Homo sapiens: one gene and its partners. The protein of the gene in region 4 interacts with the protein of the main gene of each other region in a pairwise test. Each region holds a gene or a part of one and is shown on either strand. Other genes may lie near its edges.

Region 1 (7,551 bases), about 110 Mb from region 4:
TGAAGTTAGAAAACAGCTATTTATATCATTTAAGCCACTGTTCATCAGGCAACATTACTTTATTTTTTATATTTTTTATTTTTATTTTTTTACGATAATGTCAAGTTTAATCTGCCAAATATACAAGTTGAACTTGTGGAACATGTTTTGCCTGGGTGCCACACAGTAAACAGAGGTTTCTTGAAATGATCAATGGGTAGGGTTAAAAATGGGCACTGGCCTTAGCCAGGTGGGTAGGAACTGGGCAGGGAGGGGCAGAGAGGCGAGGCCTCGATCAGACAGGACTGACCAGGGACAAGCCATAACCCTCGAGGACCCAGGGGCACAGGCTCCCAGATGACAGCCCCTCTCTGAATGAGCACCTAGGCAACACAGTCCGGGGCTGGGTGTAGCAAACCTGTCAGCAGCTGCCTCCTGGGACAACCACCCCCTTACATGCTATCTACCAGAAAAATGAAAGCTCTTCTTACCCCATCTCCCAGGCACCCCCCAGCAAGGGCTCTGAATTCTAAAAACAGCAAAAACATTCAAATGGTTACATGTGAAATGCTGTCCCTCATCTTTCTGTCTCAAAGATAGCAACTGCCCCTCCCCCAGCTCCCCCCACATCCCCCAAACAATTTCTGTGCCAAAATGAAGAGGAGGCCCCAGGCCATGGGGGGCTCCTGGCCACGAGGGGCTGTTGCGGCGGCGCCAGGGCACAGGGTGGGCGAGACACAGCAGAGGTCCTGGCAGCGCGGCCCAGGTCCCCGGCATCTCCTCCCATGGGTCGCGGTTACTTATACAGGGAGAGCGACTGCATTCGTTTTCCTGACAATGTGGCATCATCTTTTGCTTTCCTTTCCTCTTCCTTCTTCCGGGCAGCCTCCTCCCGCTGTTTCCGGATGATGGCCAGCGGGCCAGGTCAGCCTTGGCTTGCTCTGTCTTCCCGGCCAAGTGCATTTTCATGTAACGCTCTTTTGCCTTCTGCTTCTCAATCTCTTCTCGTTCTCTCCTCGAAAGCTCCTTTGGCCCATCCAGATACAGTTGTGTGACCTTTTTGGTTGTCTGTGCCACCTGGTTGGGGTTCTCGATGTTGAAGAGCCCTTCAACGCCTTTGCGGTTTTGCTGGTAGTCATCTTCTTCATCCTCACTCTCATCTGAGTCTAGAGATTTCTTCTCCTTTTTGGGGTCACCTGCAGCCCCATCTCCACCTTCTTTTTGCTCCTCTTCTTCCCTGGCCTTCTGCTTCTCAGCCTGCAGCTGTACGTCGATCTCCTCAGGGCTCCTATACTGCCTCGCCCAGCCTTTGTGGCCTCCCTTTCTCCCTCCTTTAGGCATCGCGGCTCCGCGCAACATTACTTTAAGCCACAGCATTGCTAACTGATGTTGTATATCTAGGTGGTATTACATTTAGTTCCTCATTAAAAGAACCACACAAGGCTAAGAACGTCAGCTCCTTTATTATTATTATTATTATTATTAATTATTTACTGTTATTTACCCCTAAACAACAGCATAACTCAAATAATAATGACACACACGTCCCGCCCATATACACAATACCACTAGCCTATCTGTCAGGCTATCTGGCCTTTGCTTGGTTCCTGATGGAGCTGTCTGGAGACAGCTCCCTCTGTAAAAATCCCGACTTAAACACAGGGGACAGAAGAAAGGGGGGACCTAGGTCAGATCATAAACTGACAGGCTCCCAGCGTCCTTAGGGAGTGCTAATGTGGAAACTTTGAGAACGTGCTGGACACATCTGGGCAGAGGGCAGAAGGCACTGTTTGTTTTTATGTGGTTGATGGATAAATTCCATATGGGGATATAAGACCTGTATATCACCCATTTTAGGCCAGGCATGTGGAAGCACAGTGGGGTTAGCTACTGGGTTTCATTAACCAAACCATGCGGCATGGTTTGGGAGCCATGGGAATCGGGAGCCCAGAGTAGGAACCTGGGTGATGGGGGAGGTCCCCAGAGAAAAGTAACCCTTGCATTCACTGCAAGTAAGATACAACGTGAAATGTTAAGTCCCCTTTTATGTGTTTTGCAACTATAGAATGTGCAACATTTTCATCAAGATAGAAAAGGTAAAGAAAGCAAAACTAGTATTTTGGCCTAACACAACCAAGCATGATTTGCCAATTGCGCTATCCTGTGGAGAAATCTACCACTACACTATCCAGGGAATCTGTGGTCAGTCCTCACCCCCGCACCCTCTAACATTTTACTTGCACTAAATCTGAGTTCAGCTAAAGTAATGTATCCTGGAATCAGAGAAGCCCTAGGGTTGGGGACAAAACAAGGATGGGCCAGTACTGGCATCTCAGGTACAGGTGACTTCCTGGCTGTCCTGGGGAAGCTCGTTGTTGAAACTGCTCTCTCCAAATGTTGAGTAAGGAGGGACCTGGGGAGCTTCGATGATCAGCAGACCCTCTGGGGAAAGTGAGGCAAATACTGTCACAGGATCCACCTCTGCAGGAAGCCTAGGAGAAACACACGATTTTATTCATTTATTGTTGTTAATATTGCTTAAACATTCTTTTATTCACTTGAGAGGAAATATTTTTGATAAGAGCTTAGGCTTTGGGGACATACAATGTTGGGTTTGAATCCTGGCTCTACCCCTTTCTAGCTGTGTGGTCTTGGGAAGATTATTCAGTTGCTCTGAGCTTGTTTTCTCATCTGCAAAATGAGGATAATAATACTGAACTTGTAGAGTATTTGAACTTCAGAGTCTGAGTATGCTTTGCAAATGGTAAAATGCTGTTTGAACAGTAGTTCTTAACTTAAAAGAGAGCTGTGGCCCACATATTTGGTCCCAGGTTGAAGTCATCACCTTAATACCCACTACTGACCACAATTACTAGCAGAAATGGCACCACTACCATCCCTTTATAGAGCGCAAGTAAGGTGTTATCATAACAGGCAACACATTTTCATCTGACATGTGCTTGCTGGAGAGTGCTTCACTACAAAATGCATTAATGGTGATGCAAGCACTAGGTACCTTGGTGGATAAAAGGGGCCAAGCTGGCCACATGTAGATTTCAGATGGCAACATACTCGATGGTATTCAAAATAAGCCTTGATTTTGTTCATACCCTAAGTATCTCTGATGTGGTTTGGCTGTGTCCACCTAAATCTCATATTGAATTGTAGCTCCCATAATTCCCATACGTTGTGGGAGAGGCCTGATGGGAGATAATTGAATCATGGGTAGGGGGCAGTTTCCTCCATACTGTTCTCATGGTAGGGAATAAGTCTCACGAGATCTGACGGTTTTATAAGATTTTTTGCTTGGTTCTCATTTTCTCTCTTGTCTGCTGCCATGTAAGACGTGCCTTTCACCTTTTGCCATGATTGTGAGGCCTCCCCAGCCATGTGGAACTGTGAGTCCATTAAAACTCTTTTTTTCATATATATATCAATTATGTAGTCTCAGGTATGTCTTTATCAGCAGTGTGAAAACAGACTAATACAATCACTTAGCAGATCATTATTATCTTGTTCTTCCTTTTATTTTTTTGGGACAGAGTCTCACTCTGTCACCTAGGCTGGAGTTCAGTGGCGCGATCTTGGTTCACTGCAAGTTCCGCCTCCCAAGGTTCAAGCAATTCTCCTGCCTCAGCCTCCTGAGTAGTGTGGATTACAGACACCCACCACCATGCCTGGCTAATTTTTGTATTTTTAGTAGAGATGGGGTTTCACCATGTTGGCCAGGCTGGTCTCGAACTCCTGACCTTGTGATCCACCCACCTCAGCCTCCCAAAGTGCTGAGATAACAGGCGTGAGCCACCGAGCCCAGCCAATTATCTTGTTCTTAAAACTCAGTTATAGACAATACTTGGTTGGAGTATTGTAAGAGGATGATTAAGAGGTAAGAATTAATATGCCCATTCTACAGATCACTAAACAGAGACTTGGGGGAAATCAAATGACAAGCTCAACAAGTGAGAAAGCATCGAAGATGGAATTTCTAAACCTAAATCTGGTCCAACTTCTAATAAGGTATTTTTATGATTTTTGGATTGCTTTGGGTGAATGAGACTATTGAGAATTTGGTTTCTTCAACAAACTATTAAAACTGTGAGGACATATTAGTGATCTCATTGGGGTGCCATTATTTTTTTTAACCATGAAATCCATGACCTTCTGAGTACTTTCTATGTGCCAGGTACTTTAGCTGAATCATATCATTTTGGTGTTAACAATAATCCCACCAGGCAGATTCCATTGCTATCCCCATCTTACAGATGAGGAAATTGAGACTCAGAGAAGTGAACTGCTTTGCCCAAGGTTGCTCAGCTGGCAAATGGCAGATAGGAAATGGAATTGGAATCCTGGTCTCCAAACTCAGAGTATCTGACCATGATGCTCTCCTGCCTCCCCCAGCACCAGACATTTGAAAGAAGGACTATGGCAGGAAGGACCGGCAGTTCAATCAAAATCTTTCCACTGATCCCTGCTGGCTCTGCCTATTGTAAATACGAGGGTCTTGATGAAAGAACCAAGGCATGAGGTAAGCCCATTCCTGATCATAGGCAGGACTCCTTCTGGAGGGGCTGGGGAGTTTTTTTTTTTTCTTTCTTTCTTTCTTTTTTTGTGGGTACAACAACCTGTAGCCACATGAGCCGTATCTACCCAGGAGATTCCTTGCCAGATTGGAACCATGGAGATGAACAAGGCTGCTTCTGGGAAGCCCATTTGGAAGAAAAAGAGGGAACTAGAAAGCTGCCAAGTCAAGCTTTTGAAGCGGAGACAAAGTCAAAAGTTTAGACCTCCCTCCCAATGCTGGGGATGGGCTGACTGTTTAACCATGTGCACACCAACCCAGTGCACACCAGGTACAGTGTGACAGGGTGGCTATGGCCTAGAGCATGGGTTTTGCAGGCAGGCTGACGTGCATTCAAATTCTGACTCTTCCTGACCACACAACATGGGGCTGGTGATCTTGACTCTTTGAACCTGTTTCTTTGCAGAAAAAAAGGGGGCAATAATAGTACCCACCTCTTAGGGTGGAGTGAGAATTACGTTGCAGTCTTTGACCTTACATGTTGGCATCTTGACAGCAAGATGGAGTATCATACAAATTGCAGGATCATTGAACCACAGAGTATCAGGGCCCCAAAGGATCTTCCTGATTGTCCATGACAATGCTCTTATATTACTTATGGGGAAACTGAAACTCAGAGAGATAGACAAGTCCAAGGTCTCTAACCAAGTGACTTGTATTTAAACCCATTTGGTGGGAAAGTAATTCCTCTTCAGTTCTCTTTCAGTGCTTCTACTTACATCTGAAGGAATGTCTCTGCTAAGTACTAACATGCCTTTAACGCCTTTAGCCTCTATCACTTGCTACCTTCCCTTTTTAACAATGAGAGAGCTGAGGCCCTTAGGCAGGCAATATTATCTAGTTAGAATTTAACCACAGTTTGCTTTCATTGGATTTATTTCATGATCGCTTTCCTCAGTGAACATTTCAGTGATAAGAATTTAACTTTATCAAAAATGAGATGATCTAAAAGAAAAAAAAACCTTTAGTAAATCATGGTACAGCAATGTAAGCATATAAGGCAAAAAATAGTGAAGATGGGATGTGAATGACGGTATTGCAAATGACTGTAATTTGGTTTCCCCTAACCAAATAGGAAGATCATGGACTTTGAAAGCTGAGACCCAAGACCTCTCCCTCTCCTCCTTATTCAGTCCAAATGGGGCTTTTCACACAGAGATGGATGTGTTGAGATGAATTTCCTTGCCATGGTTAAGGCAAACAGCTGCAGCATCCTGCCTGGGTGGAAATCTCCAAGGATCTCAGCCTGGCTGAAGGAATCTCCCTGTCCTCTAATGACTGGAGTTTTCCCTGGGAGAGGAGGCAACGAGGACTCCTGAGATTGGTCCAGAGGTGTCCCAGACCCCAGTTCGACTCCTAGGTGTCTAGAGTCTGGGCAGAGCCAGGAGCTCCCAGGAGTCCCAGCTGCTGGAGTGTGAGTCCAGCCTTGTGAAGCCTTTTCATAATATTAATTCCCATGGACCAAGCCCTGAGTCTGTATTCCATGCTTAATGCGTTATACACATCCTCTCACTCCCATCACAACCCCTCCATGCAGGGATGTGGGAATGGAAGGTCAGAGCAGTTAAGCAAGTTGCCCCAAGTTACCCACTCACTTTCTCATGGAGCCAGGACTCCCTGCACCCGGAGCTGAGATTCAAAATATTTAACAACTAGTGCAGCTGGGCACTGACCATTCAGAAGGGATGGGTGCATGTCATAGTGATGGAGGAGGGTCCTGGGACCCTTTAGTTGTTGGAAGGTGGAGAGGTTTAGAGGGTCCTGGGGACAAGATCAGAGTGACTGGGGTTGGCTAGGGAGGGCTCAGGGCAATAGCTAGCCAATATTCAGGGGTCCCCATCCCCCGGATCATGGACCGGCACCCATCTGTGGCCTGTTAGGAACCAGGCTTCACATCAGGAGGTGAGCAGCAGTTCAGCCAGCATTACTGCCTGAGCTCCGCCTCCTGTCAGATCAGCAGTGGCATTAGATTCTCATAGGAGCTTGAACCCTGTTGTGAACTGTGCATGCGAGGGATCTAGGTTGCATGCTTCTTATGAGAATCTAATGCCCGATGATCTGAGGTGGAACAGTTTCATTCCCCAGTCCATGGAAAAATTGCCTTCTACGAAACTGGTCCCTGGTGCCAAAAAGGTTGGGGACCACTGAATATTTTAACAACTAGCCCAGCTCAGCAGCTGAGCACCAGCCTGGAGCAATTTCAGGCATTTCTCATCAGGTTACTTCCAGCAAGCTATCTCCCCTAAGGCCTTGGAGCATGTGAAATACACACACACACACACACACACACACACACACACACACACCCCTTTTAAGATGATTAATTCACTTCTTTCTTACACAGTCCCTTTTACAGCTATGCCCTGCTTGTGACTCCACCCTGAGACCTCATTTGAGCCTTGACATCAGCTTCCCCCCACCCCCTGCCTTCCTTCCTCTCCCTCAGCAATGTTTAATCTGCTTGCTAAACCAGGGAGAGGTGTGGGGCACGGAGATGCCAGGCAAGCCAGCAAACACGAAGAACAAATGGTTTGGCGTTTGCCTTATCAGGAAGTGTCCACAGGCTTCCAAGAACTGCAGAGGCTGTGGGAGGGCCAGGGACGGACATGTGGGGGAAGAGACAGGAATGTAGAATCCCAAGCTGGAAGAAGCCTCAGAATTCAGCTAGTGTGATCTCTCCACACACAGAATTTCTTTGCAAAGGCTGATGGAAAAGTTAAGAGTCAACAATAACAATAGTAATAATGAACTCCCACTTATGAGGACCTACGCTGGGCCATGACCTTATGTCACTTTCAGCCAGGAACTCTGCAAGGCTGGAATCAGCATCCCTTTCACAGATGAGGAAACAGCATTCCTTGCCCAAGGACTGAGCATGGAACTCAGAGGTCAGGGATCTATTCTGGGCCCTTCTAAATTCTAGCTGTAAAGACCTTGGGTATGTCCTTTCACCTGTGGGAGACTTAGTTTCCCTGTATTGCAAGGAGGGT
Region 2 (8,235 bases), on a different chromosome or scaffold from region 4:
ATTGTTTATTATATCTTTTAAAAGCAGTAAGCAGTTTTCATCTGACAGCGTAGATAAAAGAGGAGTATAGGAATTTGAATGCTAGAGCATCTCCCAGGTGAGCCTTATTGCAGATCTTTTTGATATAGTCACCCATAAGCATGGTGAGCTCCTGCTCTCATAAGGTCAGCCAAAGCCCCTTAAGAAGGTACACAGCACATCTGCAGTCATTCAGGAGGTCCTGTGAAGTGTGGTGATGCATCTAACACCTTTTGCTGCTCACTGAGAACCCAGCTTTGAACTTACAAGATTACACTAACCATTTTTAAAGTGCACAAAAATATTATTATTAGTCTTAACTAAAATTACATATTTTATAATGCCCTGCAACTCTAAACCATCCTTTTGTTTACACATTTTTGTATGGTATTTTAAGATTATCAATCACTTCAACATTTCTATAACCTTGTTTGTATAGCACTTTCTCAAGAGCTGTCAGTCCCACATACAGAATCATTTCTTTTACAAAATGATTTAATATGTAATCATGTGTCAGGACATAAATTTTGTCACTTGGGACAGTAGCTTTCCAGCTAAGATAATTGCGTGAACTCTGTTAAAACTGATTATCACTCATCAATGGCTTTATTTTTAACCTATAAATAACCCCTTTCAATATACCTGGTTTTTACAGCATTGCAAAATCTGTAAAAATAACTTTTATTGGAAAATGTCATGAAGTCATTTTTCATTATTTGTACTAAACAATGTTTTATGTACTCCTTTTGTGTTTTATCTTTTGTTTTTCCATCTGTACTCCCCTCATCCTCCTAATGTTGAGAAAATCAAATTTCCTGGGTGTGTCCTTGTTAAGTGATCAAAAGTAAATGTTCTCTTTGCCATTTTAGATGGAAAAATAAAAAAAATTAAAAAGTAAATTTTTGCTTTTCATTATATTGAAATGATCTGGCATTATCTATTTCACAGTAATGTAAAATGCTTATTTTTATGTCACCAGTTGTCACCACTCCCATTGCTGATAGTGACATAGGTTTTGGGGGCAAAATTCAGTTCCTAACAAACAGTGGATACTGCTAATGAGTCATCTTTTCTACTCTCTTCAATTTTCTACTCTCTACTCTCCTCTTTAATTTTTGCACAAAATAATACTTTGCAACAAATAGTCTTTTGTCTTTATTGGCAGAAAAATCACTTGTTATATGTGTTCTAGTTAGTTCTTTTTCATGTTAGCTGTGTGGCTAAAAGCGTGTTACCTTTCTATATTTAAAAAAAGTAATCTCTGAGGATAGTTACAGTTCCTGTAATATAATTTTATGTACCTAGTTTTATCTTTTTTTAAATAAGAACTGAAGAGAGAGCTTTGTTACATATTTGAATTTTTAATTTGCACTGCTGTATTTTAAACCTAACCATAATTAGTCATTTAAAATAATTAAGTAGGCCTGAAAGTCAGCCATGTTAATTTCTCAATTTAATCAATTCTTAAAGCCTTCAAAAATTGACATTTTTTTTCCAAGACCCTTCATTCTCTTAAATAACTTTAATTTTATGAAACCATGTATACTAAAGAAAAACTTTTCCAAGATTCCAGGTGATTGTGCATTTGTGCTCTAATCTACTTTTTTAACATTACGGCTAATCTTTTGCGTAGACATATCGCTGTGGAATAACTGCCATATTTCAGAGTTCCTCAGGTTTCCTTTTCCTTTTCCAGTCTCTGTCTATGAATTAAATAGTATATAGAATGACCCATATAAGGCAATATAGTTAAATAAAACCAGGTTAAATGATTTCCTTTGTATCTGCCCAAAGTTGATAGCACACGTTACTTTTTCAAAATAAAGCTAAAACTACCAAAAAGAGGATGAAAACTTTTTCCTCATTATGGAGTGAAGTTCTAGGTGGTTGCTTTAGAAGTTGGCAGTGCAGTGCTCAGAAGGAACTCTCAATAAATAACATGTACTCCTTGGACCTGTGAGTTTTAGGAAACTGGACCTTTTCTGAAGACCTTAGAATAGGGAGTTGGCCTTAGGACCTAATGTCCCAACTTAGTGTTGGACCCTTTTAATATAAGATATTGTTAATTATTAGCATACTTTTCAAAACCTTTGAAATAGTTACTGCTAACCTGATAAAATGTTCCCATTAATCTATCATTAGTCTGTTTCTCTGAAAACAAAATGCATTGATGAGGTGAAAGCTTGTTCCACATGGCACCTACCTAATGAACAGGACTTACTCAGTTTTTAACTGTTAAGAATGTCACATGTACTATTGTCACTCCTTAGGTTTTCAGCTATAAAACATGTAAGTCTCTCATCATACAGATGAATTCATTTGCTAACAAAATATTTAAAACCCGCAGTAGACTCTGAAATATCCAGTCATCAAACTCCTGGCTAACTGGATGATTTGGCTATAATAATCTTTATTATTATTATTTTCATCTGTCTCTCGAAATATCTACAGTAGGATGTTAGTAAATGGTCTTTTAAAAGCAAAAAATTGGGGATAAAAGGAAAACTGAATTCCTTCTATATTTTTATTACTAATAAATAATGCTTTTGTAAATTTGAATGGAAAACCACTTGTATGTATTGCTATTTGGTTGCAGTTACACTCTGGAGCTTAATTTAAAACACTACTCTAAAAATTTCATGAAGGATGAATTCCAATAATCAGAAAATAAATGCATTTCAAAGCTAAAATTTTGTGTGATATGTATGATTGTATCAACAGTGTGGATCTAAATAGTAAAATATATAATGCAACTTCTTTAAAGATCAAAGCAACCTAAAATTATTTCATATTTCAGATACTCTGCCAATATTTAATACTCTCATTTTATTGAAAGTAGTGCTAACAAGGAATGGCAGGAGGGCTACCCTAAAATTATGTATTATATGCTAGGAATGGTAGAGAATTGAGATACAGCAAAACATACTCTATATCCACTTATAGTCTATATAAAAGACAATAGTTTAAATGAGGGTAAAAATGTGACTCAGGAGATTCATCATCATTTGAAAATAAATTATACTCCCATTCTTATAAATAAAAATACATGTTAAGAACCAACCCATTGGCCAAGCGTGGTGGCTCATGCCTGTAATCCCTGTACTTTGGGAGGCCAAGGCAGGCAGATCACAAGGTCAGGAGTTTGAGACCAGCCTGGCCAATATGGTGAAACCCCATGTCTACTAAAAATACAAAAATTTAGCCGGGCGTGGTGGTGGGCGCCTGTAGTCCCAACTACTAGGGAGGCTGAGGCAGGAGAATCGCTTGAACCCGGGAGGTGGAGGTTGCAGTGAGCTGAGATCACACCACTGCACTCCAGCCTGGGCAACAGAGCAAGACTCCATCTCAGAAAAGAAAAAATGAAACCTCATGAAGTAAATGAAACTATAGAAACTGCCTCCATAGCATATATTCAACACCAAACGTCTACAAAATGTTTGTTCTCTTCCCTTCACAGTCTCTTTTCCCTAACTCATATACTCCATAGTGTTCCTTGCTACAGTGGATATGTCTTCTACTTGTCAGACAGCCTGGGTGACAGAGCAAGACTCCAAAACAAAAAACAAAAAAACAAAAAACCACACTGGAGATTCCCTGCCCTTTAGATGTGGCTCTAGGTACAGAATGCTGGAGACACTGTAAACCAGGGACCCCAAGCAGCTTGGAAATGTGGATCATAGCTCTTCAAGTCTGTGATCAGAAATCAATGACCTCCATTAAAAACTCCATTGCAAAAAAATGGGAAAAATAATGCTAAGAATACCAAGGTCAAGGAGGCAGAGCCAGAATAATTTGTGTAGAAAAAGTCCTGGACTGATGTGGAAGCCATGGGAAGCAGGGAGCAGTAGTATTTCCCAGAGTGGAAGGGATTTACGGATGCTGACAATACTTGAGAACCTGAAGAAAACATGACTATCCATTTCTTAATTTTCAAAAAGCTGGTCAAGAAAAAAATGATGCACACAAAAAATCATCTCACAGTCTGATGACAGCAAATCAGTCTGCTAACAAACCAAGTGGCTCTGCCATAGATAGAATTAATGTTTCCCATGAAATGCAAAGATTTAAATAAGGCAGAGTTGGAGCTGGCAAAGGAAGTAACATGAATGTCTTCAGATTGTAACTGCTTTTTATAAAGAGACTAACTTGGCATTTTTGTAGAGAAAATGAAGTTTGATATTGCTTGCATTGAGAGATATATACATACATAAAGTCAGTTTGGATCTTGATTTGGTTTTTCAGTGTGAAGAATACCTACATTCAAATAAAAATTGATGTGTTCATTTCAAAATAGTATCCAGGGAAGTTGTTGTGGTTTTTGTATATCAATAGGACTAGTTACTTTGAACAAATAAGTGTTCTCTAGTTGCTTCACACTTTATCAGATAAAAGAAGAATCAACACACTGGTCAACCTTTTTAGTAAACAAAATGCAAACTAGGTATTAATGCTCAGTGCTGGAAATATTTCAGTGAAATAGCTATATTTTAATTACTGAAAAAAGTATAAATTGCTGTAACCTTTATACAAAAAAAGTTTAATATGTGTGAGGCCATGAAAACGTCTATATCCTTTGACCCAATATAATTCACTGCTGGGCCTTTATACAGAGAAAAACAAAAATGAAAGAAGGAAAAAGTCCTGTGTACAAAAATATGTTGCAGTAATAGCAACAAGTTGGAAACAACCTAAATGTCCATAAAAGAGGAATGGATAAAGATATAACTACACAAAATAGAGCTCATTAAGTTGACAATTAAGCAGACTTTATATCAGCATCTAACTTTTTTAAAAAAAGGCAAGTTACAATATAGGAATTTTAGAGAATTGATGCATTTGAGAAAAGATGAAGCAGATAGATATATAATTGTTCACAGTGGTAAATTATAGGTGGTTTTCTCACATTTTATGTCAGTTTCTTGTATATCAAAAAATACATTCATATTATGAGACACAGGAATCTTTACATCCAAAATAATTTGATACAGATGCCTTAACATTGCTGAATGAGACAACTTTGGAAAGATTCTTGTTTTGTGATTCCTTTTTACCCTCTAAGCACAGTGCTTTGTTAACACTGTGTGTGTAGTAAATGTGTGTGCTGCTTAAGGTAAAGAATTTCTAGTAAACTAAATGCCCAAGGTGACTGCGTGATTCCATGCCAGACAGGAAAAAGCAGTCATGCTTTTTGCCCCTAGCTGAACGTTTGTTTTCCCCACAAACTATGTATTCATCCACAGAATAGTGAAATATGCTAGATCCTAGTACAAGACAAGAATTCAATCTAAAAAATCTCTAGATAGATAATTAAAATATTGCTAGTTTTGTTATTCACAAAACTGAAGATACTTGATGGAATATTTTCCTCATCTGAAACAACTATCAGTGTCAACTAAGTGGTTATACCTAACAAAGAACTAGTTATCAATTAAAATAGTATTTTATCATTTTTACACCTTGTGTATTGTGTAAATGCTCTTAGGTTTGAAGACTAATTGAATCTGCTTTCAGCATTTTGTTGCAGAGTTTTGGAACCAGCTCCTTTAGAATGCTCTAATAGCTTGATGGCCTTGTCAGAGTTTTCAATATTTCTAAGCAGAGTCTCTAATCTTCTCTTAATTTTCTTCTGATCTTCAAGAGCACAGCCAATTACTATGGATTGAAACTTCTGATCAACTGGCCCATGTGGCACCTCAGATGAACATGCACTGTAGAGCGACATTAAATGACTCTTGGCATTTCCCAAATCATCCAGAAACTTATTGACCACCTCATCAATAATCCTTGTGGCATGCTTTAGGGATTCTTGCTGCTGGGGGTTTCTAATTGTTTCTACTGACACTTCAACGGTGAGAGTTCTTCCCATCAAACGGTTTGCAGTCAGATTTAATTCTTCTCTTTCTCCTAAAAATCAATATGAGATGTAAACTTATCTGTGTCAAAAACATTAAGGCATTTGTTTGTGACTAAATTTATTATTTTCTTTACCTCTGCCATGAAATTTTTTTAGAGATAAAAGCTGAAACTATAGCATGTAAGATTAACTGATGAAATGTATTAGATTACAGAAAGAGGTTGTAGAATACCACTTCCTGACAATCTGCATATATGGGATACCAGATGACTTCTCAAATTGGCATGTCTGCAAAAGTTTGGGTAGGTATGCATTTGTAACTGGGATGGAGATCAAGTCTTAACACTGTGAGCAGTAAGCACATATAGGGTTTATGCTGGGTAGAGCTCCAGAGATCAGATGTCCCAGATCTCTCCAGAACGACATGTGCATTTATCAGAATACAATGCCCCAAATTTTGGTTGAGAAAATGTAGCCACGATAGAAGATAAGCTGTCTTCTGTCGTCAATACTAGGCACTGACTTCATCCTTCTCCAGATAGAAGCAGGACAGTGGTCTAAAGTCTTGGCCAGCACGAGGAGCTCTATCAACATTTCATTATTTATATGAGAAAGTCAGCAAGCTCCTGCTTCTGTAACTTCCTAATTCATTGATCTTTGGGCAGGATAGCGTAGAGACTAGATCATGGCCTACCTATAGATGTGTAACAGTTTTGATCTGGATTTAGGTTGCTTACTTACCTCACCAGCCACTTGGCCCAGTACCATGTGGCCTGTGTGGCACCAAAGGAGCCCAAGTAGGAAGTCCAGTGCCAATAAAAGAAAATCAGAAGTGACCTATTCCTATTTCATGTTCTTCACATGAAAATGACAGCACAGGTTAGGCAGATGTCACATGCCTGTAATCCCAGCACTTTGGGAGGCTGAGGCAGGCGGATCACCTGAGGTCAGGAGTTTGAGACCAGCTTGGCCAACATGGTGAAACCCTGTCTTTACTAAAAATATAAAAATTAGCCAGGCGTGGTGGCACGTGCCTGTAATCCCAGCTACTCGGGAGGCTGAGGCAGGAGAATCGCTTCAACCCAGGAGGCAGAGGTTGCAGTGAGCCAAGATCGCGCCATTGCACTCCAGCCTGGGTGACGAGTAAAACTCCATCTCAAAAAAAGAAAAAAGAAAATGACAGCACATTTTTACATTCATGCCTTTTATTGGTCCTACAAGTTTCCTCATTTTCTCTGCATTTTGTCCCTTCTCTTTATGTTGTACCTCAATTCATCTTTTTTTTTTTTTTTTTTTTGGTCTCTACTTCTCTGCTTCCACTCTCTCACCCTCTTCCTCTGCTTTTTTAATCTCTTGCAGTCCAGTAACTTGTGAGGAACTGAAGTTAGGACTGTGAACCTGGGATAAAACACATGGCCTTACTGCTTGGGGCCAGCTTTTCTGAGCTTGCAGGCTTTTTCCTATCTCTCCTAGCCAGGGGCTTGGGGTAGAGAGCATGCTGGAAGAAATCTCTGAGTAAGTGGCTGCTGTAATGAACTGACAGCTGCAGCTGCTCTCTGTGGCTCACATTAAATGCTGTGGCCTGGTGTACGCATACCAAAAGTCAAGCAAAAATTGACCCACACTTATCATAAACTCTTTAAAGGAGTGTAAAAGATGAGCCCCTTCTGTGGAGATGGCTCTCACCGTCACTGATCTGCCTCATGTCCTGGCTATTTTGGATACTGTGGATCATTTCCAGAAGGATTTCTTTCTCTTGCTCAACAGCAGTTGCTGCTTCTCTCAAAGCTTCAACCCTATAGAAATTGGGAAAACAAAACGGTTATTGTATGCAGGATGTTCTTCCTATTAATTTTCTTTATCTCTCATTCAACCCAAATCAAGTTTAAAGATCACCAAACTTTTCAAAAATTCTTCATTTCTGCTTTAAAATTCTTTCATTTTTCTATACACTTGCCTTTCTCCCATTTTCCTCCCAGCTCATAAGGCAATCATTCTTTCGTGTTTATCTAATTAATACTATTTGTTTTTTACAAGATCTGTATTATTTGTATATTTTGAATTTATATCTCATTCTGTTTTTATTTTTTCACTTAGCATCCAGGTTGCTAGATTTTTGTTTGTTTTTTGTTTTTGAGACAGTCTTGCTTTGTCACCCAGGTTGGAGCACAGTGGCACAATCTCACCGCAGCCTCCACCTCCCGCTTTCAAGTGATTCTCGTGCCTCAGCCTCCAGGCCCGGCTAATTTCTGTAGTTTTAGTAGAGACGGGGTTTCACCATGTTGGCCAGGCTGGTCTCAAACTCCTGGGGTTTCACCATGTTGGCCAGGCTGGTCTCAAACTGCTGGCCTCAAGTGATCTGC
Region 3 (8,235 bases), on a different chromosome or scaffold from region 4:
CTGCACAAAAGGCAGCAAATACTGACCAAAGCACAGAAGCCAGGACAGGCCTTCTAACGCCCAATCATAAACTCTGCTGTCTCTGGAAATCAGTGACGTCTAGATTTCTAACACAGGAATAGCTGCTGTGACATTCCCTCTTTTCACCTTTTTAAACAGGAAGACGAAATAACGTAGCCAAATGACAGACTTCGGTCTACCCCATTTCAACCATTGGTCACACTTTAGTACCAAGGCCTACATCTAGCTCCCCCCACGTCCCTAGAACAGCTAGGAATACCATATCCAAAGGCTTTGAAATCAAGACCCCAAAGGGTAAGATCTCATGCCTTCGTTTTTAAAAATACAAACAGCAGTGGGTTATGTAATTCAGTCCCCTCCAGACCCCACGAAACCAAGTATTCAAATCAACTAAACATAATTTTGTGCTTGAAAACCTCCGAAATAACAACATCTGCCTCCATTCTGTCACTGAACATGCTAATGGCTAAATTTCAACACTGCTGCCAATCAATAACAGAGATAATATGCCAATTATTTATTACCGTTGAATCCTCTGCAAATAAAAATGTTTCTAATTCATTCTATAGTGCTTAAAACAAGATCAGTATTCCCGGAAAGAAATGATATCTAGAAGGTAATCAAGACAGGATAAGCAGGCATTTTTCAAGCTCTAATTAATAAACAGAAATTAAAATTGATTGGAAAGACAATCACCCCACAGTGTTCCTCAAGCGTTTCCACATTGTAAGGAACATTTACTTCAGCACACTAGGTGCACAGGTAAGTTTAGCAAATGGTGACACTAACTCTACCCACTTCTAAAATCTACTCATTGAAGGACTTCCAAGAGGAAGAATGACAAGTCGCCCATGATGCCACTATTGATTGACATCTTTCAGATTATTTAAAACCCCGAGTTTCCAAAATCAAGCCTGGAATCTTTGGAATCTAAAAAGCTTAAATTTTATAAAGGATAGAAATATAAGGAATAATCCATCACTCAAATCAAACCAACGGGGTGGGGAGCTACAAGGAATAGGAAAACAGGAGATGACAAAAATACAGATTATTGAGCCCTCCAGACAAAAGGATGCCAAACAGGGATTAAAAAACTACACTTTGGGTACAACATACACTGCTTGGGTGACAGCAGCACTAACATCTCAGAATTCACTATATAATGCATCTACGTCACCAAAAACCACTTACCCCCCCCCCAAAAGCTATTGAAGTATTTTTAAAAATTAAAGACTTTAAAAATAAAACTTAAAAAAGAATCTCAAACAGGGAAGTTGAGCACAAACCAAACACAGCAGACAGCACACCCCAGAATGGATGGGACCACATGGGGCTGTGCACAACCAGATACGTGCCGTTAAGGAGCGTTCAGCTTCCTATTTTCAGAGGCGCTCAACACTACAGCAAGTAAAGAGACTGTTGAATTTACCAAAAACTGTAATTTAAATCAAATGCTATTATTCTTCCAAGCCATCACTTACTTGAGTGATGGTATCAATGCTCACAGCCATTTCCTAACTTTTCAAAGGTACTCTCATGCACCCTTAGACTGAATTCTCTAGGAATAAACTTAACGGGGTTTAAAAATGAAAGGTGTAAGATTTGACAGCAACAAATAGGCTTTCTATTCTATTAGTAACTTAATAAAATTACACTTCTATCAATGGAAGAACAGAATAAAAGTAATTTTCTCAGCCAGGCGCAGTGGCTCACGCCTGTAATCCCAGCACTTTGGGAGGCCAAGGTGGATGGATCACTTGAAGTCAAGAGTTCCAGACCAGCCCTGACAACATGGTGAAATCCCATCTCTACTAAAAATACAAAAATTAGCTGAGTGTGGTGGTGGGTGCCTGTAATCCCAGCTACTCAGGAGGCTGAGGCAGGAGAACTGCTTGAACCCGGGAGGCAGAGGTTACAATGAGCCAAGATCACACCACTGCACTCCAGCCTGGATGACAGAGCAAGACTCCGTCTCAAAAAAACAAACAAACAAACAAACAAACAAAACAGTAGTTTTCCCAAGTACAAATGAATGCTCCCTCCTCCTCAAAAAAAAATTTTCACAAGAAAGATTCCTTAGGAGTCAAACATATTTTACCTGTAACACCATGTTGAGTAAACTGTTCACAGCTAGAGTTGCATGAAACACTCCACAAAGTCTAGAACAACCAAATGTGTTCTAAAATTGTGTAGTACCAACGCTATAGCAAAATGCTTCCTAGTTTAAGAATTACAGGTAAAGACTTTTCATTTTCCTGGTATTTCTGGACATCCCTGGATGTCTCAAGGCTGCTGCACTGACTCATCCCACCCACTAATGAAAAATATAAAACGCCTTAGTCCAAGTATCTACTTGAATTTATTTAGTAACAAAAAACCACCCGTCCTGATGGCATAAACAAAAGCGCGCTCTATGATCGCACAATGCTAGTTGTGAGTGGGATTTCCAACACTAGAGGGCGCTGTCCCGCTTTCCCGCACGTGCCATGGCTGCATACCTACCTTATCCAGAGACAGGAAGTGCCGCGTGCTGGGTTATTTCCGACACAACAGACAAGCACATCACTCGTTGTTCTTCTTGTACTTCAACTGTCCCCAATTACTTAACTGTTGCTATGCTTTTTTGAGCTCCTATGAAATTCCTTAAAATATTTTTTACTTATTTTCAGTAACAGCACGTGAGGTTGCTTAAGGGCTCTGGCGTATCCCGAGCAATCTCTATGCCCTCCTGCAAAGCCAGCACGGATGGAACACGCTACGCTGTTTGTCAGGGAACCGCCTGTCCTTCTAGCGGTTTTCACGCTGTTTAGTTCCAAAACAGTTTCAAATTCAGTCAAAGTCTAGTTCAATATTCACTACAGCTAGGATTCTAGTTACCAATGGTAATCATGAAAGATATTACAAACTGAGAAACAAAAGACCTTGACTGTCCCAAAGTGATTTTTTTTTTTTTTTGAGATGAAGGCTTGCTCTGTCTCCCAGGCTGGAGTGCAATGGCACGATCTCAGCTCACTGCAACGTCCACCTCCCGGGTTCAAGCAATTCTTCTGCCTCAGCCTCCAGAGTAGCTGGGATTACAGGCGCCTGCCACCACACCCAGCTAATTTTTCTATTTTTAGTAGAGACAGGGGTTTCACCATCTTGGTCAGGCTGGTCTCAAACTCCTGACCTCAGGTGATCCACCCGCCTCAGCCTCCCAAAGTGCTGGGATTACAGGCGTTGAGCTACCGCGCCCGGATCCGTAAGTGATCTTACATCAAACTAGAACATACTTTAAGAGTGAAAAATTATACAATGGTTTCTTCCCTCTCCTGTAGAAATGTTACCATAATTAAATGTTTGATCAATTGCTAAATCACAACTTACAATATGAAAATCTTCATATACTTCAAATATACTGAAGAAAATGTCTACATGTAACTGAGGTGCGGCATCCACCTGAATGAACAGCACGAAACGCTATTAAAGTGACACTAGAAGCCCAGGCACAAATCATACACAGACACAAAAAAGCTCCAGATCCCACTCAGGAAGAATGCACCAACACATTCGCATTTATTTTCTTTTTTTTTTTTTTTAAAGCAAATGACAAAGACCCAGTTTACCAGCTTTACTTTTTTAAACCTAAGCTTAACATTACATATTTAAACAATTGTCAAAACTTACTAAGTTGCCAGCATTCATGCACAACTAGAAAACATCCTTAATTTATATTAAACCAGAAATGTATTACCATTAATGTATTAATATCTTTCACTACTAAATACTGAAAAAAATTGAAATTATTTCTGTAGAAGAATCGTCCTGGCAATGTTAACTTCACAGCAGGCCGACACTACGTGGCTCACATTTCAGACACAATGAAAAGCAGGTCCATGCTGGTGTTAGTGTACAATCTTGTCCTACACTAAAGAGTCAAGACTCACCTTGGAGTACGTTTAATAAAAAAGCAAAGTGCATACAGAGATTTACAACAATTTTAAAGACAAAAAAAAAATGGTCCTATTATGTGGTCCCAACAATCAACTCAAAAGTCTATGACAAATAGAGGCTCCGATGAGCTGTTTATAAATACTTTAGGTACAATTATACTGAAAGTCGAGTTCGTTTGAAATCTTCAAAAAAATGTTCCTGTTAATCCTCAAATGGTGCTTGTTATAGTTTAACATTTCTGTTAAGTGCGTGCGTTGAATTACTTGTTATCCAAGCGCAGCAGCTGCTCCTTACCATTTATTGTTAAGGACTTTAACTGGCCATCTTCTTCAACTTCTACTCTTTCTTGACCGTTCTCGACAATTCTGTAGGAAAAAAATTCATTTAAAAACCTTTCTGGTAAAGAAAATGCATGTGTGAGGGTAACTAAGTTGTTTAAGGACATTACTGAAATACACCATGAATATAAGTAATTTTCAGGCTGTAAAAACATGGCTGAAGCCAACCTGTCAACAACACATCTTCCTTTCCTAAAATAGAATTAACCTGACAAAATAAATTGTGTCTCAAATACCGTACAGGCGGATGCTAAATACATGCAGAGGCTATAAAACAGTAAAGGCTTTACTATTAATGATTTTCCATTTTACCATTTTAACAATGCTGCAGAAACTTATTACACTGTATTACATTAAAGATTCCCTCTAATAATTCAACAGTTAAGTAAAATTTAAGAGAAAAGGCTTTAATTAATGAATTTGGAGAGCAAAAGATTTTCATGGCGCCAGATTTAGCATACAACAACCTCTACTTCACACTCTGGGAGACGTGCAACATGGCACCAGTGAAACGTTACGCCTGCTTACTAAAAATATAAAATGCAGAATACCACAGTACCTCTTTGTAGTGATTTTTCTGCCATTAACCATTTTAGTTGAAGTTGATATCGATTTGAAGTTGCCCATGCCACTACCACCAAATGACGTGGAAGAGAATGAAGTGAGGCCCCCGTGACCTAGTGACCCAAATGAAGTAAATCCTACAGGAAAACAGAAAAGAAAAATGCTTAAAGAAATATGTCAACTAGTAATGCAAAGACAAGAGTTTGAAAGTTCAGTAGCAGAATATTTAATGTTAAGGCATAGAACCGAGGAGTAATAAACGACGCAACTATCAAGGCCTCAGCTGAAGTGCTGGGGTGCCCAGGGGGAAAGACTGTCTCTCAGATCCCTGAGTGGGGACTCTAGGGCAACGCGAGAGTGCAGCCTCTCCCCTCCCCCTCTCCTCATGCAGAGCTTCGCGGGACCCAAGCAGCTTTTCTGACATGCCAAAGACAGCCCCTGCTTGTGGGTGGTCTGCTTGGCACCATGAAGCACGTGTTGTGTTAATGTGAACATTCTGGAACCGAGACCAGTATTAAGCTCCAACCAGCAGAGCAGCCTCGGTATCAAGCTCTGTTTGCTTTGGCGTGGCTTGTAAACTCCACAGACTGTGATGGACACTCTTACCCCACAGGAACAGAGTGACCTCACCACCACAGAACAGCAAACCTAATCGGCTTCCCTCCTCTTTGCCACAGGACCACAGGGGATAAGAATCTAAATTATTAAAAAACTAAAATAATTGCAGAAAGAATACAAGTATTCGTCTCAAAAAACTATGGTTCTACAGTTCATGAACACCATTCTCAATTATACATTATGGATATTATCGCAGTGTGGACACTAAAAACTTTCACAAGTCACACTAAAGCAAACCTATTTTTCGATATTAAAGCTGGTCTACTGGTTAGAGCTTTTGTCCTGTTTCCAAAATGCTCCCATTAACACAAATGACGCATACCTCTGAACATGATTCAATCATCTAAGCGCAGATACTGTCTAGGGCTGGTGGTGTCCTGAAGAAATATGTGAACCAGGTATGTTAAGTTTACCTTTTCTAATGATTTCACTAAAAAGCAGAAACTAGTGACATTAATTTTAGTATTTTATTTAATACAGTATATCCAAAATATTTCAATTGGAAATACAAAAAATCAAAATCATTTGCGGTATTTTACACTGCTTCCCATGTTCCATCTTTGAAACCCAATGACTATTTCACACTCCTGCTGATCTCCGTTAGGAGTAGCCAGGCCTCCAGGGCTCAGGAGCTACACGTGGCTGGTGGCTACTGCACTGGTCTCAATTAAGCCTCGCTAAGTATTTATTCTTGTGATACTTTGTAAGGCACCTCAGAAGTGGAGAAGGCTTACACCCCCACCACACACACACACACACACACACACACACACAAACACACATACAGGAGCCACTGATTACTTTTAAAAAGGACAATTTACGTGGTATTTTTAACTAGCTTTCTTAACCTGTGGTCAGCATATTCCATGGTATCAAATGAGAGGATCTGTTGAGGGAAAGCACATCAAAACTGAGGTCCAATCGAGCAGAATTCACTACTTACCTAGATGGCATGAGCGCAATGTTCAAAGAAAATAAAATTCTGACCATGATGAAGAAGGAACCCTATATAACAAGCTCTCCCAATTCTTATCGTGGAGGCTTAAAAATAAAAATGAGAGAATCAAAACAGCAGCTCCAGGCCAGGAGTGGTGGCTCATGCCTGTAATCCTAGCACTTTGGGAGGCCAAGACGGGTGGATCCACCCGAGGTCAGTTCAACACCAGCCTGGCCAACACGACAAAAACCCTGTCTCCATTAAAAATACAAAAATTAGCTGGGCCTGCTGGTGCACACCTGTGATCCCAGCTACTCAGGAGGCTGAGGCACAAGAATCACTTCAACCCAGGAGGCGGGAGGCTGCAGTGAGCTGAGACCGTGCCACTACACTAAGAGTGGCACTCACTAAAGTGAGACTCTTTTTAAATTTAAAAACAAAACACAACAAAAAAAAAAGCTCCTTTGTGAAGAGAAACTGGATGAGCTTCAGAGAAAAGTGGGATTCTTCAGGCTAAACACACAGGCATATCATGATATATGCATATTCATGTTACTCCAGTCTACAAGCTTGTTTCCATCGGTGAACTATGAAGAGCTACGTGCGTGAGGCTGACACTTCACTAGTGAGTGAGCCTGGCCTGGGCTAGTGGTAAGGCCCAGCCTTCGATTCCATCCAGTGGGATGCTCCTAGGATGCTATTTGTGCACTTTTGTTTTAACTACAAAGGAGGTTAGACAGCATGAAGGTTAGTGAGATTTTCCAACTGCGTTACTTTCCACCTACTGATGCAGAACATATGTTGCCCCTTTTTAACTAAGAATTTCATTACATTCTGGCCTTGATTATTATATTAAGAGGAGAAGATTTCCAAGCACGACATTCTTAGGAAGATTAGGAGAAAATGTAGGTTAAGCGCAGACCTGTATACCAAAAAAAGCTGGCAAATCCACAATGCTATTCTACGAAAGGTATACACATATTTTAAAGCACTCTAACTAAAAGAGTATTATGATTTTATAAGTACTAACTGCTGTTAAGATAACAGAGATTAAACCTAGGGATTTAATACCTGTATCAAAAGAAGAAAATCCACTTCCAAAAGACGGAAATCCACTGAACGCAGAGAAAAACGACCCCGTCCCTCGGCTTCTGCTTCCTCGGGGACCCCTTCGATTCCCAAAGAAGTCCTCAAAAGGGTCTTCTAAAATCAAACATAAACACACACTATGAAGTCTTTTTTTCAAGTTTTTTTCCTCATGTGATAGCTACAGTAAGAGAAAATAGATGTTTGTAACATATTCAGGAACAAAAAACTTAAGAGGTTTTAACAAAAGAGCTTATCTACAGAGTAACTGAAACACTACCTCACCAACAGTTTTACTAACTAGTTTAATTCAACTAAAACTACAATACATTGTATCAAATAAATTACCAGACTTAATTAAAAAAACAGCACATACACACATTCTTTATGGAGGACCAATATGCACTTCAAACTCAGCTCTTTTCACGTCACTGATGTGAGGTCAAGACGCTGTTCCTGCTACGACCACTGGAAAAGTGAGAAAAGCTTCACACGGCAGCTGTTGTATTCCTTGGAGTCTGAGTTGCCTTCTCCAAAGCAATTCAGAAACAAACAGAAAAATGGATTACCCTAACATGCGCGCGCCCACACACACACACACACACACACACACACACGAGGAATGGTGTGGCCATGTAAGCTAAGTGTAAATACCTGATGAATCTCGGCAAAGGAAATTCCTTTTATTCTAAGTTTGATGTCTCAAAAAACTTTTAAGGATTAGCTGAAATCAAATCT
Region 4 (8,339 bases):
TACCTTCTCTGGGACAGGAGGGCTCCCCAACTCACCCCGCCTGGTGCCGAGCGCATCTCTGATGTCTCTTGGTAGACCTTGGGGGCACCATCACCCGTATTGGAGTAGGAGATGACAGTGGAAGATGAGAAGGTCTGGCAATTGCCTCCAGCTGTCATGTGTTCCTGAGGACAGGGTAGGTAGGGGAGGGCTGAATGGGGAGGCATCACCCCTGGTGAAGGGATTTCACCCTTCAGCTGCCTGTTCTAGCCTGTATCTTTCTCACAAAATGCAAGAACTGAAAAAACATCAGGCCTCATCATTACCCTCCCAAATTCCTCTGAGTCCAACCACGAGCAAGAAGGACCTGAAGAGACAGGGCCTTAATTGTATGCTACGTAAGAGAGCTGCTGCCGGCTGCTTCAGGCAGGCATGACAGCAGGTACAGGGTCCCAAGGCTCTCTGGTTCAATTACTTTATCCAGTACTTTACCCTTCACTAGCATACTGTTTCCCTCTTGCCTTAGAGGATGCAAGGTGTTGTCAGCCATCACTGAGAGCAAGGCCGGGGAAGGGTATGGGGCAAGTCTCACCATGTTTCCAATCATGTCATTCATCATCCCAAACATGTCCATGAAACCACCCGACTGGAGGAAAGAGATGGAAAACAGAGTCAGGAAAGCAAAGTCAGTGTTCAGAGTTGATCCTGTTTAGGAACCCACAACCCACATGGCTGCACATTTCCTTTCTCTTCTTCCTTCACATCTAGCAAGTTCTCTTTCTCATTCTGTTAAAATAACCAGAATACTCATATTTCTCCTCCTGTGAACTGCTGACCCCTTCCTCAGTCTCTGTGACTGCTGTGATCCAATTTTCCTTCTCCTGCTTGCTATATTCCCCCCATCTTTAGGAAGCAAGCCAAAGTAATGGATTCTAAACTCTAAAGAGGTAAGGCATGAAATTGTTAAAACCTACCAAAAAATCATCTCTAGTTGGCCCTTTAACTGCACTTCCCTCCTCAAAAGAACAAATTTTGCTAGACAATTACATCTTCCTAATGCGTATGAACTTCTAGGAGTACAACAGTTAATAACATCTTTTCTTTTTTTTTTTTTTGAGATGGAGTCTGGCTCTGTTGCCCAGGCTGGAGGGCAGTGGCGCAGTCTCGGCTCACTGCAATCTCCACCTCCCGGATTCAAGAGTAGCTGGGACTACAGGTGTGTGCCACCATGCCTGGCTTTTTTGGTATTTTTAGTAGAGACGGGGTTTCACCATGTTGGCCAGTCTGGTCTCGAACTTCTGACTGCAAGTGATCACCCATCTCGGCCTCCCAACAAGAGTTTAACACCTTTAACCCACAGGGCTCCTAGTACCCAACAGGCTCAGAGCTTTGTGAATGCCATAAAAAGAGAAGATTCTGGGGTTACTCATGAAACTATTCCTAAGAGGCACATTTGGGAATAATATCTAAGGGTAGAGAGTGTGTCTGAGATGGAAGGACACAGGGAGATAAAGACTCACCATTCCCAGCATCCCAAAGGGGGAGACAGCTCCAGCCTACAGGAACACATGAGGAACAGAAATTAGAGACCACATCCTATCTCTTTACAATCCCAAACCAGGCCCATGGCCTCAATTTTTTTCCATCCTCTCAAAAGGGAGTCACAAAGCCCTTTTTCCTGACCCTTTCCCCAACTCCTAGAGCATTTCACTTGCTCAGTTGGCTGTAGTGCAAGAAAATTAAGTGCTTTCCTAACTAACCTCCAACCTTTCTTTGGGTCTCAGGTGTGTCTCAGCATCATTACCTGCTGCATCCGGCGGCTGGCAGGCCTGGTCCCTGGCATGTTGCCATCTGTGATGCTGAGGAAGGGGCTATATCCAAAGCCACCTGACAACATACGGCTCATATGCTGACGGTGAATAGCAAAGGGATCCCTGTGGAGTGAGCACATAGTATGGATGGCAGAAGCGCCAAACTGTCAATCCCTCCACCACCCTGCAAAAAAATACGCACAGAGCAACAGTGGCACCGATGCCTACTTCCTGCTAGGTAGGAGCTAGGTATCCAGCCAGTTCCAACCATTCCTAGCAATGGGAACCCCGATGTCTGCCTGAACTGCTCAGAGACCTGGAGTGGGAGAGCTTGAGGGGGAGGGAATACTCACATCAGGAACATGGGATCCTCAGGCTCCACGTCCCTCATGAAGCGGAACATCCTGATCTCAGCTCCAGGGGGCTCCACACTGGAAAGATATGGAAGCTCAGATACTTGGAGGTGGCCAGGGTTTTGCACACCCACTCAGTGTGGGGACTCTCAGAGCACTGTCCTTTCCAAATCCTGTAACTGACCCCCTAAACTCCAGGGAGACCCTACTCCAGGTGTTCCACACAACCCTCTAGGGAGGGAAGGGCTCTTCAAACCTCTTTCTCAATTAGGGCCATGGAAAATTTTTCCAACCCTCTCGGTTTTTCCCTCCCCCACTCAGAGCCATCCTCTTCCCAAAGCTCTGGCCGGTAGCATACTCTCCCCTCCTCCCGCCGACGACACCGTTCTAGATGAGAATGCCAAGTGCAGGTCCTCCGCCCCATTAATGACCCCAGTCACCCCGCCCCCTCCTTACACTCAGGCCTCCCCCAGGCGGGCCTCACTAAGCCCCCCGCGCCTGTCTGCGACTCCTCTAGCTCCCGCCTCCCCGCCAGGCGAGCAGGAGAGGTAGGCCTGAGCCTCTCCTCTCCCCACCCCGCATCCCGGGCTCCCAGACCCTGCAGCCCCGTGGGCCCGCTCCCGTCCGGGGCTGCCAGCTCTGCCCGAGCCTCACCAGTGCCCGATTCGGGCTCAGCGGCCCATCCGGCCGGTTTCGCTTCCCGGTACGCTGCAGGGTCAGGGTCGCGGCCCGGAACGTGGGGATTGGTCCGGGCTTGAGCTCCTCGGCCTTCCACGCCGCCTCCTCCCACAGCTGCCACCTCCGTACGGCCCCCTCGGCCAACGGAGCCCGAACCTCGGCCAGGCCCGGGCGGAAGTGACGTCACGATAGACCCGCCCACCCGGGGCCGGGCCGTGGGAGCCCCGCCCCCTGGCGCGGGTGGTGAGATGGCTGGGGCCGAGTCCCAGGGGCGCCGGGGCCATGGGCCAAGCTCAGGGGAGCAGAGCCTGAGGCCGAGAGGGGTCCCCTGGGCACGAAGAAGGGGAGCTCATTAGTAACCTCGATTTGGGTTCTGTGGACTGGAAGAGGCTCCCATAAGGCAGGGGAGGAGAAGGAGAAGAGGAATCCATTCTTCGGGAGGGACCGGGTTGGAGGTTGAACCTGGGGGCGCAGTGCAGCACGTTCTCTCTCCCTCCTCAAGGGGAAACTGGAGGACGAGGGGCAGATGCCCCTTGGGGAGAGGCGGGCGCTCTGTGGGCGACGAGGCGGGGCGGATCCCTGGGGGGAGCTTTAAGCCGACTCTACTGGAGAAGCAGTCTACCCTAGAGGGAGGATGGGCAGTTTTCCTGCGGGGGAGGCGCTTGGGCCTGTCCCCGCTTGAGGAGGAGCGTTCCTGGCAGGGCGGAGTCCCCGGAGTGACGCAGAGGAGGTGAAACTCTCCAGCCCAGATCTAGTTCGGGCTTCAGAAAGTCGGATGGGGCAGAGGATCCAGGTTGGGGGGTTGGCCGCCAGATGGCGCTCCTCGGCCAGGCTGGAACCGGAGGCCCTTGAGAACTCGCGTTGGAGAGGGACCTGGACCCTCCCCCGTTACCCATCTGTGAAGGGTTGGACTGGGGAAAGGCTACAGTTCTGAATCTATTAGTTTAATGCCACTCTCCCCTTCCTTTTACTCTAATTCTTGTGTCCTCAAGAGCTCCCAGTCCTGCACTGACCTTTCTTGGTTGCTTTCTTAGGTCAAAGGTCTAAAGTTTGGGGGAACAAAGGAGTGGAGAGCTCAGTTAACCTGGATCACCCAGGGGAGGAGCTAAAACGGGGCCCAGAAGACCTGCCTCCAAGGCCAGAGACTGATACTTTGACATACTAAATGTCTTGCATAAAATCTGGCTCTGCTGGAGAGAAGGGCCTTCCCCTTTGGGGTCAGGGCATTTGGACTGTCTAGGATGGACTTTAACCAGACTCATCCAAACTCCAGCTTTCCCTGGTTCTTTACTCTGGCTTTTAGCCATATTAGTGCTGTGTGGAGTCTGACCCAATGAGAAAGACTTGTTCCCAGTAATTCCCTGGGGGAGAAAGAGGGGGTCCCTGGTGACTCAGGAAAAGGTGCTAGGAACAGGGCTTCTCACGTTTCTTTGGACTTGATCATTATTAAAGAGGAAAAAACAATAATAGAGACAGGGAGCAGAGATAGATAATTAAGATATAAGCTGACAGACTGGCAAGTCAAAGGAAAACAGACAGAATACAAGTAAATTTGTTTTTCATTGCTATTTCTGGGGGAAGAGACTTAGTAAAATCTTCTGTCTTCCAGATCTCTGCACTTCCCACCATGCAACTTCCCCTTATCCTCTTGCCCCAAATGAAAGCAGTTTGACATGTGATCAAGAGTTGTCCCAGTAAAGGTTCTGTGGCTGAAACTTAACTAAAGAGATCCTATCCATTTTTTTTCTTTTGTCCTCTCCTCCTTCTAAAGCAAGTTCTTTATTGTCCAGCCAATCAACAAATGTTTAAGGCCTGGCGCAGTGGCTCACGCCTGTAATCCCAACACTTTGGGAGGCTGAGGCGGGCACATCACAAGATCAGGAGTTCGAGACCAGCCTGACCAACAAAGTGAAATCCAGTCTCTACTAAAAATACAAAAATTAGCTGGGCGTGGTGGCACATGTCTGTAATCCCAGCTACTCAGGAAGCTGAGGCAGGAGAATCGCTTGAACCCAGGAGATGGAGATTGCAGTGAGCCAAGATTGTGCCACTGCACTCCAGCCTGGGCGACAGTGAGACTCCGTCTCAAAACAACAACTACAACAAAAACGAAAATTAGCCGGGCATGGTAGCAAGCACCTGTAATCCCACAAGTAGGCTGAGGCAGGAGAATCACTTGAGCCTGGGAAGTGGAGGTTGCAGTGAGCCGAGATCACGCCATTGCACTCCAGCCTGGGGGATGGAGCGAGACTCTGTTCCAAAAAAAATAAAAATAAAAATAAAAAGCAAATGTTTAATGAGGCCTGGAACTGTCCTAGGTACATTGTATTAAGCATACATACAAAATATAAGACACGGTCTCTGCCAATTGAAGGCATACAGTCTTGTAGCCACCTTTTTCTTTTTTAGTTACCTGTTATCCGTTTTTTTGTTTTTTTTTTAATTAAATTGTAGAGATGGGGAGTTTCATCATGTTGCCCAGGCTGGTCTCAAACTCCTGAGCTCAAGTGATTCGCCCAAACTTGGCCTCCCAAAGTGCTGGGATTACAGACATGAACCACTGTGCTCAGCCACCTGCTATCCTTTACGTACCGCCTTTAGGTGCCTAGAGTCCTTTCTCTTCTTCCTTCCAAAACTTAAGAATCTGCTGGCCAGGCGCGGTAGCTCACGCCTGTAATCCCAGCACTTTGGGAGGCCGAGGTGGTTGGATCACTTGTGGTCAGGAGTTCGAGACTAGCCTGGCCAACCTGGCCAACATGGCAAAACCCTGTCTCTACTAAAAATACAAAAAAATTAGCCAGGCATAGTGGCACGTGCCTGTACTCCCAGCTACTTGGGAGGCTGAGGCATGAGAATCGCTTGAACCCAGCAGCAGAGGTTGCAATGAGCCGAGATCTTGCCACTGCACTCCAGCCTGGGCGACAGAGCAAGGCTCCGTCTCAATAAAAAAAAGAAAAAAAAAAAAGGAAATTGTTGGCCAGGCACAGTGACTCACACCTGTAATTCCAACACTTTGGGAAGCCAAGGCAGGAGGCTCGTTTGAGCCCTGGAGTTGGAGACCAGCCTGAGCAACATAGTGAGACGTTGTCTCTTCAGTAAAAAAAATTAGCCAGGTGTGGTGGTGTGTGCCTGTAGTCCCAGCTACTTGGGAGGCTGCGGTGGGAGGATTGCTTGAGCCATAATCACACCACTGCACTCCAGCCTGGGAGACAGAGCAAGGCCCTGTCTCTAAAAAAGAAAAAAAGAAAAAAAAAAAACCTCTTGAACAGGTGAGGATGAAAGAGCAAATGCAAGAGCCCATTTTCAGAGTTCTTGGAGACATACCATATAGGCAGTTGTCTACTCCAGGAATTAAAGGGATGTAATTTTGCAAGTAACCAGAGTTTGTGTCTGTCTTCCTTCTCCGGGTCTCTCCCTCTCCTTCATTTCCTTTCCTCTCTTCTCCTTCACTCTCTTCCTCTCTCCCTTCCTCCATCCCTCTTGTCTTTTCCCTCTCTCCCTCCCTCTTTTTTTTTTTTTTTTTTTTGAGACGGAGTCTCACTCTGTCGCCCAGGCTGGAGTGCAGTGGCACGATCTCGGCTCACTGCAAGCTCCGCCTCCCGGGTTCACGCCATTCTCCTACCTCAGCCTCCCGAGTAGCTGGGACTACAGGTGCCCGCACACCTGGCTAATTTTTTTATATTTTTAGTAGAGACAGGGTTTCACCGTGTTAGCCAGGATGGTCTTGATCTCCTGACCTCGTGATCTGCCCGCCTCAGCCTCCCAAAGTGCTGGGATTACAGGCATGAGCCACAGTGCCCGGCCCTTTCTTTCTTTATCTTTCTTTCTCTCTCTCTCTCTTTTTCCTTCCTCCCTCTCCTCTCCTCTTTTTCTTTCTTTCTTTTTCTTTCTTTCTTTTCTTCTCCTTCCTTCCTCTTTTTTTTTTTTTCAGAGTTTTGCTCTTGTTGCCCAGGCTGCAGTGCAAAGGCATGATCTCGGCGCACCACAACCTCCGCCTCCCAGCTTGGGTTCAAGTGATTCTCCTGCCTCAGCCTCCGGAGTAGCTGGGATTACAGGCATGTGCCACCACGCCTGACTAATTTTGCATTTTTAGTAGAGACAGGATTTCTCCATGTTGGTCAGGCTGGTCTCGAACTCCCTACTTCAGGTGATCTGCCCGCCTTGGCCTCCCAAAGTGTTGGGATTACAGGCATGAGCCACTGCACCTGGCCTGCCCTCCCTCCCTTCCTTTTTCTTTTCCTTCCTTCTTTCCTTCCTTTCTTTCTTCCTTCCTTCCTTTCCTCTTTTCTTTTCTCTTTTCTTTCCTTTCTGTCCAGTGAACTGTGGTGAACAGTGTCCCATAGGTAAGATGTAGAAGGGAGAGCAGGCCCTGCCAGGGGTGAGGCTCAATCATAAGGCAGATAAGGATTGTTGGCAAGGAAGAGAAACAAAGTTCCAGCATTCACTGTTCTATCTGATGGAGCCAAAGTCATGAAGTCCTTGAGAGGGTACAGCCGGGCCAGAAAAGGGGTCGTCTCTTCAGATGTGAGGTCATGCCTCTGGAGCAATCCCAGGGCTGTGAGACATTAGAGTGGAGGGAGGGTGGAGGAGTGATGAGGGAATGAGGGGAGACTGAGTTTTTTGCCTGAGCGGCATGAGCGGGTGTGGCTGAGTGTGTGTGGATGTGATGTGCATTTGTGTTGGGGGAGGGAGATAAACTATAAAAAGGAGCGCTAAGGTGCCCCAGGTAGAGAGAGGGGGGAATGCCAACTCAGTGAGAGAGAAAAGTGACTTGAGAGCATTTTTTAAAAGTCACCTTTTCAGCTTTAAAAAAATAAATAAATAAATAAATAAATATATATATATATAGCCAAATATGTACTGAATGCCTACTCTGTGTCAAGTACTGTTCATGGTTCTGGAGATACAGTAATGATAGAAAAATAAAGCAAGGTAGAATGGGGATGGAGAACAGGCAGGCAAGCTGGGAGGCAGGCAGTTGTTGCTTTTGATGTAGGTGACTAGGGAAGACCTCACTGATGAAGTGACATTTAAGCAGAGACCTGAACAAGGTGAGAGAAATAGCTGGGATGAGAGCATTCTGGGCAGAAGTAGCAAGAGCAGGCCAGGTGCAGTGGCTCAAGCCTGTAATCCCAGCACTTTGGGAGGCTGAGGTGGGTGGATCACTTGAATCCAGGAGTTCGAGACCAGCCTGACCAACATGGTGAAACCCTGTCTCTGCTAAAAAATACAAAAATTAGGCTGGGCGTGGTGGCTCACGCCTGTAATCCCAGCACTTTGGGAGGCCAAGGCAGGTGGATCATGAGGTCAGGAGATCGAGACCATCCTGGCTAACACAGTGAAACCCTGTCTCTACTAAAAAATAAAAAAAATAAAAAAATTAGCTGGGTGTGGTGGCGGGCACCTGCAATCCCAGCTACTCAGGAGGCTGAGGCAGGAAAATTGCTTGAACCCGGGAGGCAGAGCTTGCAGTGAGCCGAGATCACACCACTGCACTCCAGCCTGGGCAACAGAGCGA

The links.
Region 1: the proteins of MLF2 (region 4) and HSPB8 interact in binary tests that used the Homo sapiens proteins (3 or more experiments, as listed by UniProt).
Region 2: the proteins of MLF2 (region 4) and BAG2 interact in binary tests that used the Homo sapiens proteins (3 or more experiments, as listed by UniProt).
Region 3: the proteins of MLF2 (region 4) and DNAJB6 interact in binary tests that used the Homo sapiens proteins (3 or more experiments, as listed by UniProt).

The regions. Positions count from the first base shown.
Region 1 is NC_000012.12:119,188,619-119,196,169, reverse strand, and holds the end of HSPB8 (heat shock protein beta-8), read right to left. Parts: intron 2,472-7,551; coding exon 2,312-2,471; 3' UTR 1,424-2,311; downstream 1-1,423. UniProt on the Homo sapiens protein: Involved in the chaperone-assisted selective autophagy (CASA), a crucial process for protein quality control, particularly in mechanical strained cells and tissues such as muscle. Displays temperature-dependent chaperone activity.
Region 2 is NC_000006.12:57,181,465-57,189,699, reverse strand, and holds part of BAG2 (BAG family molecular chaperone regulator 2), read right to left. Parts: intron 7,669-8,235; coding exon 7,559-7,668; intron 5,923-7,558; coding exon 5,510-5,922; 3' UTR 1-5,509. UniProt on the Homo sapiens protein: Co-chaperone for HSP70 and HSC70 chaperone proteins. Acts as a nucleotide-exchange factor (NEF) promoting the release of ADP from the HSP70 and HSC70 proteins thereby triggering client/substrate protein release.
Region 3 is NC_000007.14:157,381,625-157,389,859, reverse strand, and holds part of DNAJB6 (dnaJ homolog subfamily B member 6), read right to left. Parts: intron 7,615-8,235; coding exon 7,483-7,614; intron 4,994-7,482; coding exon 4,852-4,993; intron 4,320-4,851; coding exon 4,249-4,319; coding exon of another isoform or gene 4,214-4,248; exon of another isoform or gene 3,536-4,213; intron 1-3,535. UniProt on the Homo sapiens protein: Has a stimulatory effect on the ATPase activity of HSP70 in a dose-dependent and time-dependent manner and hence acts as a co-chaperone of HSP70. Plays an indispensable role in the organization of KRT8/KRT18 filaments.
Region 4 is NC_000012.12:6,750,142-6,758,480, forward strand, and holds the start of MLF2 (myeloid leukemia factor 2), read right to left. Parts: upstream 3,001-8,339; 5' UTR 2,798-3,000; intron 2,776-2,797; exon of another isoform or gene 2,741-2,775; intron 2,222-2,740; 5' UTR 2,194-2,221; coding exon 2,144-2,193; intron 1,914-2,143; coding exon 1,784-1,913; intron 1,536-1,783; coding exon 1,500-1,535; intron 626-1,499; coding exon 572-625; intron 165-571; coding exon 36-164; intron 1-35.